Regions from separate parts of the Homo sapiens genome. Here region 2 is linked to region 1. The links come from fine-mapping of genetic effects on gene expression. Tissue or cell type: whole blood. Region 1 holds a variant in brackets; the other region holds the start of a gene. All regions are shown on one strand. Distances are from middle to middle.

Region 1 (7,573 bases):
GTTGCCCAGGCTGGTCTCAAACTCCTGGGTTCAAACAATCCTCTCACCTTGGCCTCCCAAACTGTTGGAATTACAGGTGTGAACCACTGTGCCCAGCCTGTCACCTCCTATTCTGTGAGGCTGGACATTTCTTTTGTTAAAAAAAGGACATAAATTTAAACTCTGATGGGAGCCACTCTGGAAGGGTCTCCACTAAAAATCATCTCAAATGAGCTTTTTTTTTTTTTTTTTGAGATGGAGTTTTGCTCTTGTTGCCCAGGCTGGAGTGCAGTGGTGCGATCTTGGCTCACTGCAACCTCTGCCTACTGGGTTCAAGGGATTCTCCTGCCTCAGTCACCCAAGTAGCTGGGATTACAGGCACCACCACCATGCCCGGCTAATTTTTTTGTATTTTTAGTAGAGACGGGGTTTCACCATGTTGGCCAGGCTGGTCTCTATCTCCTGACCTCAGGTGATCTGCCCGCCCTGGCCTCCCAAAGTGCTGGGATTACAGGTGTGAGCCACCACGCCTGGCCCCCAATAAGCTTCTGTATCAGAATTCACGAGAAAAAGCAGCCAAATAAGCTATGACTGGCCAGTTCACAAGTTTGTCTTTGATGTGTTTTATTATTTTTATCTGAATGGAATTATCCTGGACATGGATTTTGTAGGCTCTTGTTTATTTTTCACCATCAAATTCTGAACGTCTTTCAGATCAACATAGACTAACATCATGTACAGGGCTGTCTGGTGCCCCATTGTAGGGAGGTACCATGATTTATTTATTAATTTAATTTTTTTTTTTTTGAGATGGAGTTTCGCTCTTGTTGCCCAGGCTGGAGTGCAATGGCAGGATCTCAGCTCACTGCAACCTCCGCCTCCAGGGTTCAAGCGATTCTCCTGCCTCAACCTCCCAAATAACTGGGATTACAGGCATGTGCCACCACGCCCGGCTAATTTTGTATTTTTAGTAGAGACGGGGTTTCTCTATGTTGGCCAGGATGGTCTCGAACTCCTGACTTCAGGTGATCCGCTTGCTTCGGCCTCCCAAGGTGCTGGGATTACAGGCATGAGCCACGGCGCCTGGCCTGGAGGTACCATAATTTATTTAACCAGCCTCTGAAGCTGGGAATCTAGAATGTTGTCACTGTTCTGATATTACAATAACCCCATTTACTTTTTTTTTAATTGTGGTAAAATAATATAGAATTTACAATTTAGCCTTTTTTTTTTTTTTGAAACAGAGTCTTGCTCTGTCGCCCTGACTGGGGTGCAGTGACGCGATCTCGGCTCACTGCAATCTCTGCCTGCCGAGTTCAAGCGATTCTCCTGCCTCAGCTTCCCAAGTAGCTGGGACTACAGGCATGTGCCACCACGCCCAACTAATTTTTGTATTTTGTATTTTTTTTGACAGAGTCTTGCTCTGTCACCCAGGCTGGAGTGCAGTGACATAATCTCAGCTTACTGCAAGCTGTGCCTCCCGGGTTCACGCCATTCTCCTGCCTCAGCCTCCCGAGTGGCTGGGACTACAGGCGCCTGCCACCATGCCTGGCTAATTTTGTTTTTGTATTTTTAGTAGAGACGGGGTTTCACCATGTCAGCCAGGATGGTCTCGATCTCCTGACCTCGTAATCCGCCCACCTCAGCCTCCCAAAGTGCTGGGATTACAGGCGTGAGCCACCGCGCCCGGCTAATTTTTGTATTTTTAGTAGACACGGGGCTTCACCATTTTGGTCAGGCCAGTCTTGAACTCCTGACCTCGGGTGATCCGCCTGCCTCAGCCTCCCAAAGTGCTGGGATTACAGGTGCGAGCCCCTGCGCCTGGCCTCAATTTAACCATTTTTAAGTGTAAAGCTCAGAGGTACTAAATGCACTCACGTTGTGCAACCATTACCACCCTCCATCTGTGAAACTTTTTCATCATCCCCAACTGAAACTCTGTGCCCATTAAGCAATGACCCCATTTCTCACTCGCCCCCATTCAGTCCCTCCTAACCTCTATTCTACTTTTGGTCTCTGTAAATTCACATATTCTAGTCCAGGCGCCGTGGCTCTCATCTGTAATCCCAGTACCTTGAAAGGCCTGAGGTGGGCAGATTGCTTGAGCTCACGAGTTTGAGACCAGCCTTGGCAACGTGGCAAAACCCTGTCTCTACAAAAAATGCAAAAAATTAGCCAGCATGGTGGCGTGTGCCTGTAGTCCCAGCTACTCGGGAGGCAGAGGTGGGAGGATGGATTGAACCTGGGAGAAGGAAATTGCAATGAGCTGAGATTGTGCCACTGTACTCCAGCCTGGGTGACAGAGCCAGACCTTGTCATTCATAAATAAATAAATAAATGAATGAATAAAATAAATAAATGGCCGGGCGCGGTGGCTCAGGCTTGTAATCCCAGCACTTTGGGAGGCCAAGGCAGGAAGATCACCTGAGGTCAGAAGTTCGAGACCAGCCTGGCCAACATGGCAAAATCCCATCTCTACTAAAAATGCAAAAATTAGCTGGGCGTGGGGGGCACGTGCCTGTAATCCCAGCTACTCGGGAGGCTGAGGCAGGAGAATCGCTTGAACCCAGGAGGTGGAGGTTGCAGTGAGCTGAGATCGTTCCACTACACTCCAGCCTGGGTGACAGAGTGAGACTCCGTCTCAAAAAGAAACAAATAAATAAAATAAAATTAAAATTAATAATTAATTAAAAAATTCACTTATTCTATAAATCTCATATAAGTAGAATCATACAATCAATATTTATCTTTTGCATCTGGGTAATTTCACTCAGCATGATGTCTTCTTTTTTTTTTTTTTTTTTTGGAGACAGGGTTTTGCTCTGTCGCCCGGTCTGGAGTGCAATGGCACGATCGTAGCTCACTGCAGCGTCGAACTCCTGGCCTCAAGCCATCCTCCCACCTCAGCCTCCCCAGTAGCTGGTTTTAGAGGTGTGAGCCACCGCACCTGGCCAGTTGGATATATTCTAATGCTGCTCTCCTGGCTAACACCTAGCCTCCCTGACTTGCCCAACTCCTGGGAGTTCTGGCCTCAAGAACCCCTCCCTAGTCCCTGACTGGCTCTGAAAACCACCACAGCGTCTCTTTCTTGTTGGGTAAAGGTGAGGGCTGGACCCTGGAAAGGTCCTGTTTGGGGCAGCAGCTGCTAGGTGGGGGCTGCCAAGGTCCCCACTGCTGTGTGGTTTGCATGAGTGTGTGTGAGTGGGGGTGTGGGTGCTCGTGTGCCCACCTTCTC[C/G]TCATGCACTCACACTTGTGGATGTAGCTCTGCCCACTACTCTTTGGCTCTGAGGGCAGGGGCTGAGAACAAAGTTTCATCTACATGTGCTGGGGAAAACCCCATTATATTTAACACTCACAATACTTCCTCCATACCAAGCATAGTTCTAGGCACTTTTCAAACATCATCGTATTCAAGCCACAACAGTCCCATGAGGTGTGTACTATTTTTATCCCCATTTTATTTGTTTTATATTTATTTATTTTCAAGACAAGAGTCTTACTCTGTCGCCCAGGTGGGAGTGCAGTGGTGCGATCACGGCTCACTGCAGTCTTGATCTCCTGGGCTCAGGTGATCCTGGGATTACAGGCATGCACCACCATCCTTGGCTAATTTTTGTATCTGTATTTGTATTAAAAATTTTTTTTTTTAGTAGAGACGGGGTTTCACCATGTTGGTCAGGCTGGTCTCGAACTTCTGACCTCAGGTGATCCACCCGCCTCAGCCTCCCAAAGTGCTGGGATTACAGGCGTGAGCCACCGCGCCCGGCCTTAATTTTTACATTTTTAGTAGAGACGGGGTTTCGCCGTGTTGCCCAGGCTGATCTCCAACTCTGAACTCAAGCGATCTGCCTGTCCTGGCCTCCCAAAGTAATGGGATGACATTCACGAGCCACTGTGCCTGGCCATCCCCATTTTGTAGGTGAGAAAATTGAGATGGAGAGAGGTTGAGTGATCTGCCTGAGATCCTATGGCCAGTGAGCAGTGAGTCTAGCTGCGGAGTACAGGTTCTGAAGCAGGATGCGAGACCGCCTGCACGTGCGCATGGATGATCTTGAACTTCCCCTTCATTCACCAACTGTAGACCCCATGTGGGTGGTCACCGAGACGGTATGCGGCTGAACCAGGCAGTGGATGCCAAGGACCTCGTCATCATCGTCACCACCACAATAACAATACTCTACACTCTGTTTGTCACATGACAAGCTCTATGTTGGAAACAGTATGTGTATCTATATTAGTTCATCCTCACAATTAACCCCTGAAACATCGTCATATTATTCTCTTTTTAAGACTTACTGAGTCTTGCTCTTGTTGCCGAGGCTGGAGTACCATGGCGCAATCTCGGCTCACTGCAACCTCTACCTCCTGGGTTCAAGTGATTCTCCTGCCTCAGCCTCCCGAGTAGCTGGGATTACAGGCATGCACCACCACGCCCGGCTAAGTTTTTATATTTTTAGTAGAGACGGGGTTTCACCATGTTGGCCAGACTGGTTTCAAACTCCTGACCTCAGGTGATCTGCCTGCCTTGGCCTCCCAAAGTGCTGGGATTACAGGCATGAGCCACAACGCCCAACCCATCTTATTATTCTCTATCACAAATGAGAACACTGGTTGGGCGCAGTGGCTCGTGCCTTAATCCCAGCACTTTGGGAGGCCGAAGCAGGCAGATCACCTGAAGTCAGGAGTTCGAGACCAGCCTAGTCAGTATGGCGAAAGCCTGTCTCTACTAAAAATACAAAAAATTATCCAGGCGTGGTGGCTCACGCCTGTAATCCCGGCACTTTGGGAGGGCGAGGCAGGCAGAACACCTGAACTCAGGAATTCGAGACCAGCCCAGTCAGCATGACGAAATCCTGTCTCTACTAAAAATACAAAAAATTATCCACGCATGGTGGCTCATGCCTGTAATCTCAGCGCTTTGGGAGGCCAAGGCAGGCGGATCACCTGAAGTCAAGAATTCTAGACCAGCCTGGTCAGCAAGGCGAAAGCCTGTCTCTACTAAAAATACAAAAAATTATCTGGGCATGGCAGTGTGTGCCAGTAGTCCGAGCTATTCGGGAGGCTGAGGCAGGAGAATGGCTTGAACCCAGGAGGCGGAGGTTGCAGTGAGCTGAGATTGCACAGTTGCTCTCCAGCCTGGGGCGACTCTGTCTCTAAACAAGAAAACAAATGAGAACTCGGAGGCTCAGAGAGGTTAGAGACTTGCCTGAGGCACACAACTAGAAAGTAGCAAAATTTGATTTTGAATCCAGGCCGGTCAGACTGTAAAGCTCCTACTTTTTTGTTTGTTTGCTTTAACTTTTTTTTAAAGAAATAGGATCTTGCTGTGTTGCCCAGGTTGTTCTCAAACTCCTGGGCTCAAGCAATCCTCTTACTTCAGCCTCTCAAGTAGCTGAAACTATAGGCACGAGCCATCAAGCCCGGCTTCTTTAATGTTTTTTAAAAATTGAGGTAATTACATTACTTAAAATTGTAACCATTTTAAAGGATATAATTCAGTGGCATTGAGTGGATTCAGAGTGTTGTGACACCATCTCCTCTATCTAGTTTTGAAACATTTTCATCACTCTCCAAGGGGACTGTCTTCCCATTAAGCATTTTCCTCTCCTCTTAGCCTCTAGGAACCATTTACTTTCTGTTTCTGTGACTATACCTGTGCAGGATATTTTCTATAAATGGAATCATACAATATGTGGCCTTTTGTGTCTGGTGTCTTTCACTTAGCATAATGTTTTCTTTTTTTTTTTTTCCGAGACGGAGTCTCACTCTGTCGCCCAGGCTGGAGTGCAGTGGCACAATCTCGGCTCACTGCAACCTCCACCTCCTAGGTTCAAGCCATTGTCCTGCCTCAGCCTTCTGAGTAGCTGGGATTACAAGTGCGGTGCCACCACACCCGGATTATTTTTGTATTTTTAGTAGAGATGGAGTCTCACCTTGTTGATCAGCCTGGTCTCAAACTCTTGACCTCAGGTGATCTGTCTGCCTCGGGCTCCCAAAGTGCTGGGATTACAGGCGTGAGCCACTGTGACCAGCCAGCATAATGTTTTTAAGGTCTATCCGTGTTGTAGCATGAATCAGTACTTCCTTCCTCTTTATGACTGGATACTATTCCATTGTATGATTATGCCACATTTTCTTGACCCATTTATCAGATGGGCGTTTAAGCTGTTTCCACCTTTTGGCTGTTATGAACAGTGCTGCCATGAACATTTATGTACAAGTATTTGTTTGAGTCTTTGTTTTCTTTTCTTTTCTTTTTTTTTTTTCTTTTTTTGAGACAGAGTGACAAAGTTGCTCTGTTGCCCCAGCTAGAGTACAGTGGTCCCATCTTGGCTCATTGCAACCTCTCCCTCCAGGGTTCAAACAATTGTCATGCCTCAGCCTCCCGAGTAGCTGGGACTACAGGTGTGTGCCACTATGCCCAGCTAAATTTTTTGGATTTTTTAGTAAAGACGGGGTTTCACCATGTTGGTCAGGTTGATTTCAAACTCTTTTTTTTTTTTTTTTGAGATGGAATCTCACCCTGTCGCCCAGGCTGGAGTGCAGTGGCGTGATCTTGGCTCACTGTAAGCTCCGCCTCCTGGGTTCATGCCATTCTCATGCCTCAGCCTCCTGAGCAGCTGGGACTACAGGCGCCCGCCACCATGCGCAGCTAACTTTTTGTATTTTTAATAGAGGTAGGGTTTCACCGTGTTAGCCAGGATGGTCTCGATCTCCTGACCTTGTGATCTACCTGCCTCAGCCTCCCAAAGTGCTGGGATTACAGGTGTGAGCCACCGCGCCCAGCCTTGAACTCTTGACCTCAAGCGATCCGTCTGCCTTGGCCTCCCAAAGTGCTGAGATTAGAGGCTCAAAATAGTCTTTGTTTTCAATTCTTTTTTTTTTTTTTTTTTTTTTTGAGACAGAGTCTTACTCTGTCACCCGGGCTGGAGTGCAGTGGTGCAATGTAGGCTCACTGCAATCTCTGCCACCTGGGTTCAAGTGATTCTCCTGCCTCAGCCTCCCGAGTAGCTGGGATTACAGGCGCCTGCCACCGTGCCTGGATAATTTTTTTGTAGTTTTAGTAGAGACAGGGTTTCACTGTCTTCGCCAGGCTGGTCTTGAACTCCTGACATCGTGATCCACCTGCCTCGGCCTCCCAAAGTGCTGGGATTACAGGTGTGAGCCACTGTACCTGGCCTGTTTTCAGTTCTTTTGGATATATACCTAGGATTGGAATTGCAGGGCCATATGGTAATTTTATGTTTAACCTTTGGAGGAACTGCCAAACTTTGTTCCACTGCGGCTGCCTTACTCCACATTCCCAGCAATGCATGAGGCTTTCAATCTCTCCACCAACATTTGTTATTTCCTCTCTCTCTCTTTTTAAAATTATAGCCGTCTTAGTGGGTACGAACTGATATCTTATGGTGGCTTCAATCTGCCATTTTCCTAATGACTTGTGATGTTGAACATTTTTCTTTCTTTTTTTTTTTTTCCCCCGAGATGAAGTCTCGCTCTGTCACCCAGGCTAGAGTGCAGTGGTGTGATCTCAGCTCACCGCAACCTCTGCCACCCGGGTTCAAGCAGTTCTCCTGCCTCAGCCTCCTAAATA
Region 2 (6,287 bases), 72 kb after region 1:
TTCCCAAGTATGACTGCTCTTTGAATAATGGCCATTAATGTTCTGTGCCCCATTTTTTTCTTTTTTGTGTGTGTTCTTTTCTTTTTTTCCCCCCACTTTTGTTTTTTGTTTTTGTTTTTGTTTTTGAGATGGAGTCTCACTCTGTCACCGAGGCTGGAGTGCAGTGGCATGATCTTGGCTCACTGCAACCTCTGCCTCCCAAGTTCAAGCAATTCTCCTGCCTCAGCCTCCTAAGTAGCTGGGATTACAGGCGCGCCCCACCACGCCTGGCTAATTTTTGTATTTTTAGTAGAGACCGGGTTTCACCATGTTGGCCAGGCTGGTCTCGAACTCCTGACCTCAGGTGATCCACCCACCTCGGCCTCCCAAAGTGCTGGCATTACAGGTATGAGCCACCACGCCGGCCCCCATTTGTTTTGAAGCTGTGATCTAGACCTAATGAATGAATATCAGAAGGTCCTTTAGCCACGGAGTTCAGCCTCCTGTTATACTGATGAAGAAACAGAATCCCGCCCAGTCTGAGGGCAGCGTGCAGTGGAGGAAGTGCTGGATTAGAGGGTAAACACACCTGGGTTTAGTCCATGCACTGTCATTTACCAGGTGTTCGACCTTGGGCAAATTACTTCTTTTCCCTGGGCCTCAGTTTCTTCATTGGCGAGATGGAGGAAAGAACCCTACCAGTCCTCTGTCTGACAGCCCCAGGTTACTGCCAGAGCTTCTCAGAAGGCTGTAGGGATTTGTCCTGGGCTGCACAACCAGAAAGGGCTTCTTGTCCTCCCTGTCCCTCTGCCCTTGGTGGCCCCTTATCCCACACAAGGACTTATTCTAGAGGCTGCCTTTGAGTTGAAACCCCAGTGAAACACAGTGGGAAGGGCTGGCTTGCTTGGTGGCAGCTCAGAGGTCCCCCAGGTTTGAAAGGCTCATGCCACCCTCTTCCCCTGCTCTGGGACCTTCCCAGTGGTGAAAAGGGAAGGCAGCAGAAAGAGAATGCTCCCCTTTCTGTCAAGGCCGAAAGTGTCCACCTGGACAGGACTGTGGCCAAAGGGATGAGGAGTTTTGGGGCACGGGAAGGGGACCCTGGGCTTGGGTCTAGAGTTGTGGTTGTGCCTCCTTCACCACTAGACACAGTTCCACAGCTGGGCAGCCTCCCACAGCTGGACTCTGTCCACCTGCTGGCACCATCACACACTTACGAGATCATTGCTGGGGCCGGGTTCTAGCCCCACGGAGCTCCTAGCTCTCTGTCCTTGTTTGTTAATCACCCGTCATGCCAGGCCACCATGGGGAACTCCCCCCATCCGCCTTTGCAGGCCTGAGCTCAGCGAGCTGGAAAGAGGCAGCAGGCAACTTTGAGAATGAAATCTGTTTTCCTAACCCTCCCGTCACAGTCATTCATACCCAGCACGCTGAAGCATATTTTTAGTCACTTTGCAGAATTTAAAATACACCTCGAAGGCGCCAAGAAACACCAGCTTGGGGATTAACTCTGCTCACAAGAGACAGTGGAGGGGGGCGGGGGGGGTGCCTCGTGCTGTGTCACCCGTTGGCTATGCCATGACTCACTGTGGCCGAAAGCTTCACCAGATGCACCTGCCTGTGGACGTGGGGTCCGGAAAAGCCTCTAGCGGGGAGTGAGCTCCAGCCCTCGGGGATGATGCCAGAGCCTGGGGCAGCTCCAGCCCTGCCACAGCTTCACTGCCTGTTCGTAATGGGTCACGTCCGTGCCCTGGGACTTGTCTGTGAAACACAGGGAATGATTAACTGGTTTCCGAGGGTTTGTCCAGTTCTAACATTCTGTCCTCTGCACTTTATACAGGATTTTAATTTCGATTTTAATTCCCCAAACAGGTGAATGGGGGAGGGAAGGGGGAGATCGTCACAGAGCCACAGCACCTCTAAGGAGGGGTGAAACCGTGATGGGATGTCAGGAACACAGAAGCACCCCAACCACTCTCCATAGGAGGCAGACCCCCGCCCCGTCCCACCAAGGGGAGGTGACCACCCGTGGATTTCCAGACTGAATCCCATCCTGCCATCTGCCCCCAGATACAGAAATGGAGGCCCAGAGAGTGGGTGTCATGTTCAGGATCATGCCACACACCAGGGCAGAGCTGAGCTAGGACCCAGCCTCCTGTCTGCCACTGGGGGCTTTGTACCCTCTCTAGCACATACCTGGAAGTCTGAAGCTTGGAGATGTGGTCCCTCAGGAGGGAAAGCCCCTTCTGAATATCCTGTTTCTGTTGGGCCCCAATCACAGCCCTTGCTCTCCCCGCCAGGGGCTGCGGGCCACTCTGTGGGGCAAGGGTAGGGTCCGGGTGCCCACACAGGAATGGGCCCGGGGTAGGTTGGGGGCTGGATCTGGGTTGCCCTGGGGAGGTGGGAGACACAGCCCACCATGACTGGTGGAGGTCTAGGTTCTGGGCCCTCCCTGAACTGGTTAAATCCGGGCGTGTGAGTATCGGAGGAGCCACCGGCTCTCCAACTGGCGCCCCTGACTTTAGCCATCTGAGACTCCTCTCTCCAGTTCTCCCAGATACGCTAGGCTCAAGCCCTCAGCCCGGCTCCCAGAGCCTCCGCCGGGAGTCCACGCCCGAGGCAGGGGTTGGGTGAAGGGTACTGAGTAGGTGCTGGGAGCCCCGTCACCAGCACCCTGCTCCCAGCTCCGTAGCCAGAGCAAACCCTCTCCCGCTCCCCGCGGGCGTTCGCGGCCGGTCGGCCCCGGCGTGACTGCGCCCCCATTGGCAGGAGGGGCTCTGCCGCCCGGGCCCCCAGTCCCCGGGCCCCCCACCCCCAGGGCAGCACGTGCGGGGCGGGGCTGTGGCCCGAGCCCGGAGCTGATTGGGCGCGGGCCTGGTGGGCGGGGCCGGGCCGCAGCTGTCAGAGCCGCGGCGGCGAACGAGGCGCAGCGAGCTGAGCGGTGGCAGCGCCGCAGCCGGGGCCGGAGCGCAGGAGCCGACGGGGCCCGACCAGGATGGTGCAGTGGCGGCTCCGCGGCGCACGCACGCGCTGAGCGGGCCCAGCCTGGGCCCCGCGCCCCCCGCGCCCCCCGCCGCCCCGATCCGGGCCGGCATGATGTGCCTGGAATGCGCCTCGGCGGCGGCGGGCGGCGCGGAGGAGGAGGAGGCGGACGCGGAGCGGCGGCGCCGGCGCCGGGGGGCGCAGCGAGGGGCTGGCGGTAGCGGTTGCTGCGGGGCGCGGGGCGCGGGCGGCGCTGGAGTCTCGGCCGCGGGCGATGAGGTGCAGACGCTGTCGGGCAGCGTAAGGCGGGCCCCGACCGGACCCCCCGGCACCCCCGGCACCCCCGGCTGCGCAGCTACTGCAAAGGGCCCCGGCGCTCAGCAGCCCAAACCGGCCAGCTTGGGCCGCGGGCGGGGGGCAGCCGCCGCCATCCTCAGCTTGGGCAACGTGCTCAACTACCTGGACAGGTACACCGTGGCAGGTGAGCGAGTGCCCCACCCAGCCCGAGGACCAAGACCCCACCCCATCCCACCACCCGCCTCGAGGGAGGTACCCCAGAGAGCTTTTGGTCTCAGGCCTGCTATCTCCAGGCCCTACGTGAGGTCCCTACGGACCCTCTGCTCAGGCACAACTGGGCAAGGGATGCCTCCGTGCACCACGGGTACAATCCAGCTCCCCGCTCATACACACCCGGGGCCAAGGGATAGAGGAGTCCCCACCCCTGGAGCAGCCCGCGCGTCCTCTCCAGCCCTTGACGGCCCATCCGTTGTCCTCCTCTCCAAGAGTCTCCTCTGCGTCTCTCTGTCTCCTTGTCTCTGCGCCCCCTCCGACCCCAGCTGCCGGTTCCCGGGCCTCCTTCCCTTCCCTTCCCCCAGCCCAGGTCGTCTGTCCGTCCATGGCCCGTCAGTTCCTTCCTTTCTCCGCCGCCTCCACCCCCCTGCGTGCGTGCGGCGAGTGCGCGCGCCCCTTGCGGGTGTGCGCTAGGGAGACCGGGTGTGTGTGCGCGTGGCGGCGCGGTTGTGTGTGAGCGCGTGGCTGACAAAGGCTCCGGGCTGCGGGGAGCGGAGGGAGGGGCGGGGCGGGTCCGCGGCGCCTGGGGACCCAGGCTGCGGTTTGCAGCTGGCCCTGTACAGAGGCCTGGAGACGCCTCCCCCTGCTCTATGGTGCTTGGGGTGTAGGGTAGGGCGCAGGCCTCTGGAGCTAGAGACGTGGAGCCTCATCCTCAGGGAGCATCTCTGGGAATCAGCCTTGGGGACGGGATTGGGATCGATAGAACAACTGGGTTCTAGCCCCAGCTTTGCTCCTAATGTGCTTGGTGTGTGACCTTGGGCCAGTCTCAGCGTGTGTTTAGGTCTGTTTGCCCGTTTGTGAGTTGATTGATCATTGGGCCTTTGGGGGACGCACGTGGTTCTGGAATTGCCTTCTGCTGGCTCCCTTCCCCAGCAATTAGGGGTGGGTCTAGGGGTAAGAATTTGCCCTAGACTGAGCTGCTACTGGTTGGGAATGGTGGAGCTTTGAGAGGGAAGGACTTTGGCCAGACTGGCATAGGAAGGGGCTCCCTGCAGGAGGAGAGCAGTACTGTGTGCCTGGCATGCTGGCCCAGAACCTGCGTAACTATAGCTTAGTAAAATCTGGAGCTATCAAACACACACACAACAGAGAGAGAGAGGAGATAGGAGAGAGGGAAGGATTTATTTTTGGACAGACTCTAAAGAGAACTTTGCGGCAATTGAGGGAAGAGAGCCCGGGCATAAACCACATGCCACCTGGTGCCTTCTCTGGGCCTCAGTCTCCCCGTCTGTTGAATGGAGTTTTGTGTCAAATGGAAGGGAAGAATTCTGATGGGAGGGCAGAGGCTTCCCCCTCCCCCCATTCCTGCTTTCAACCCCCCTTGGCTCTCTGTCCTTCCGCTGGAGGAAATTGGAAGTGGGTACCAGTGGCATCAGTTTCTGGGTCGAGCTATCCCAAAGAGAAACTTACTTTGGTCTAGAGAGCAGGAATATTGAGCACCTCCCAAAAACGCCAGCCGCTGTCACGCATGCACCATGCTGCCGGGGACCTGGGAGCATAAGCGCCATCCTTTGGGGGAGAAATCAGAGAATACCTGGGACCTGTAGTCAGTTCACAAAAGGCTTCTGTACACAGATAGGGGGACCAATGTCCCTGTACAGCCCCCGTTCAAGATGGCCAGGAAAGTGACTGGCAAAGCTGGTGTTAGCTCTAACAGTAAGGCTCTGCCTGGGAGGAGGTCTTCCCACCCTTTCTCAGCTGAAGAAGGAATGGTACTACTTCTGGCACTGTAGCGCTCTCCAACTTGTTTTTTTTCTGGCCCCAGACCACCCCCTTTGACGTTCTTAGGGGAACTGCCTCTGCCAGGGGCAGAGCCAGAGAGGGTGGGATCAGGGAGGGCTGGCACTTATCTGCTCCCACTTCTACTCAGGTCTCTGAGTCAGATTGTCAGCATGGGGGAATGAGATAGGAAATTTGTGGTGAATTGGTAAAGGGAGGTGGGGAGTGGTGGCTAAGAGGGGCGTGGGGCAGTTAGGGAGGAAGGCCCGGAAAGTCCTGTGCAAACACTTGCCTGGGCTGTGCCTCCCTCCCTCTCCTGGCCTGGAGTGGGAGCTCACACACCACCCCACCCCCAACACACAACAGACACAGGTTTCCTCTCCGGATAAGCCTGGTTGCCCCTCTCTCTATGGTAGATTTCCCCATCTCCACTTCCCCAAGTTCAGTTTTTAGGAATATTTATTATCTCTATGGTAACTACTATGGCTTGATGTGCTAGGGCCAGGGGAGTGCTCATCCCAGGCCTGAGTGCACCTGTTGCTGGCTGGCCCAGCTGGGACAGAGATGGGGATGCAGAGACTCAATTGCTCAGTCTTTGATGCTTGCACCTACCTGGCCCCAGCTCCCCACCAAAGATGGAAGGGAGGTCCCACTCTCCTTCTTTAACTCTGTCCTTTAAATCTGTTTTTTCATAGTGTAGACCAGCTTTGTCCAAAAGAAATATAATGTAAGCCACATATTCCTGTCAAATTTTCTGGTAGCCGGACTAAAATAGTACAAGAAATAGGTGTGATTAATTCATAATATATTTTATTTAACTCAATATATCCAACATATTTCAACATGTAATCAATATAAAAGTTGTTAGGGCTGGGCGCGGTGGCTCACGCCTGTAAACCCAGCACTTTGGGAGGTCGAGGCGGGTGGATCACCTGAGGTCGGAAGTTCGAGACCAGCCTGGTCAACATGGTGAAACCCCCCATCTCTACTAAAGTAAATACAAAAATTAGCTAGCATGGTGGTGCACACCTGTAGTCCCA

What was found. PIP is the estimated chance that this variant, and not a neighbour inherited with it, causes the effect.
Region 2: SPNS2 starts here. The variant in region 1 is fine-mapped to the expression of SPNS2 in whole blood (TOPMed, PIP above 0.99).

The regions. Positions count from the first base shown.
Region 1 is chr17:4,423,668-4,431,240 of GRCh38, forward strand. No RefSeq gene overlaps it. Among named protein-coding and RNA genes, the nearest start is that of SPNS3, 6.5 kb to the right of the region's middle. The variant C/G (reference allele first, on the strand shown) is at 3,215.
Region 2 is chr17:4,495,979-4,502,265 of GRCh38, forward strand. SPNS2 (SPNS lysolipid transporter 2, sphingosine-1-phosphate) reads left to right here and starts at 2,903. Exons shown (of 13, transcript NM_001124758.3): 1 at 2,903-3,439. The coding sequence starts at 3,070. It overlaps SPNS2-AS1 (SPNS2 antisense RNA 1), which reads right to left and starts at 2,757. Exons shown (of 3, transcript XR_001752763.2): 1 at 2,173-2,757; 2 at 1,564-1,737. RefSeq lists silencers at 2,696-2,755, 2,766-2,915, 2,976-3,025 and enhancers at 3,067-3,702, 3,703-4,337.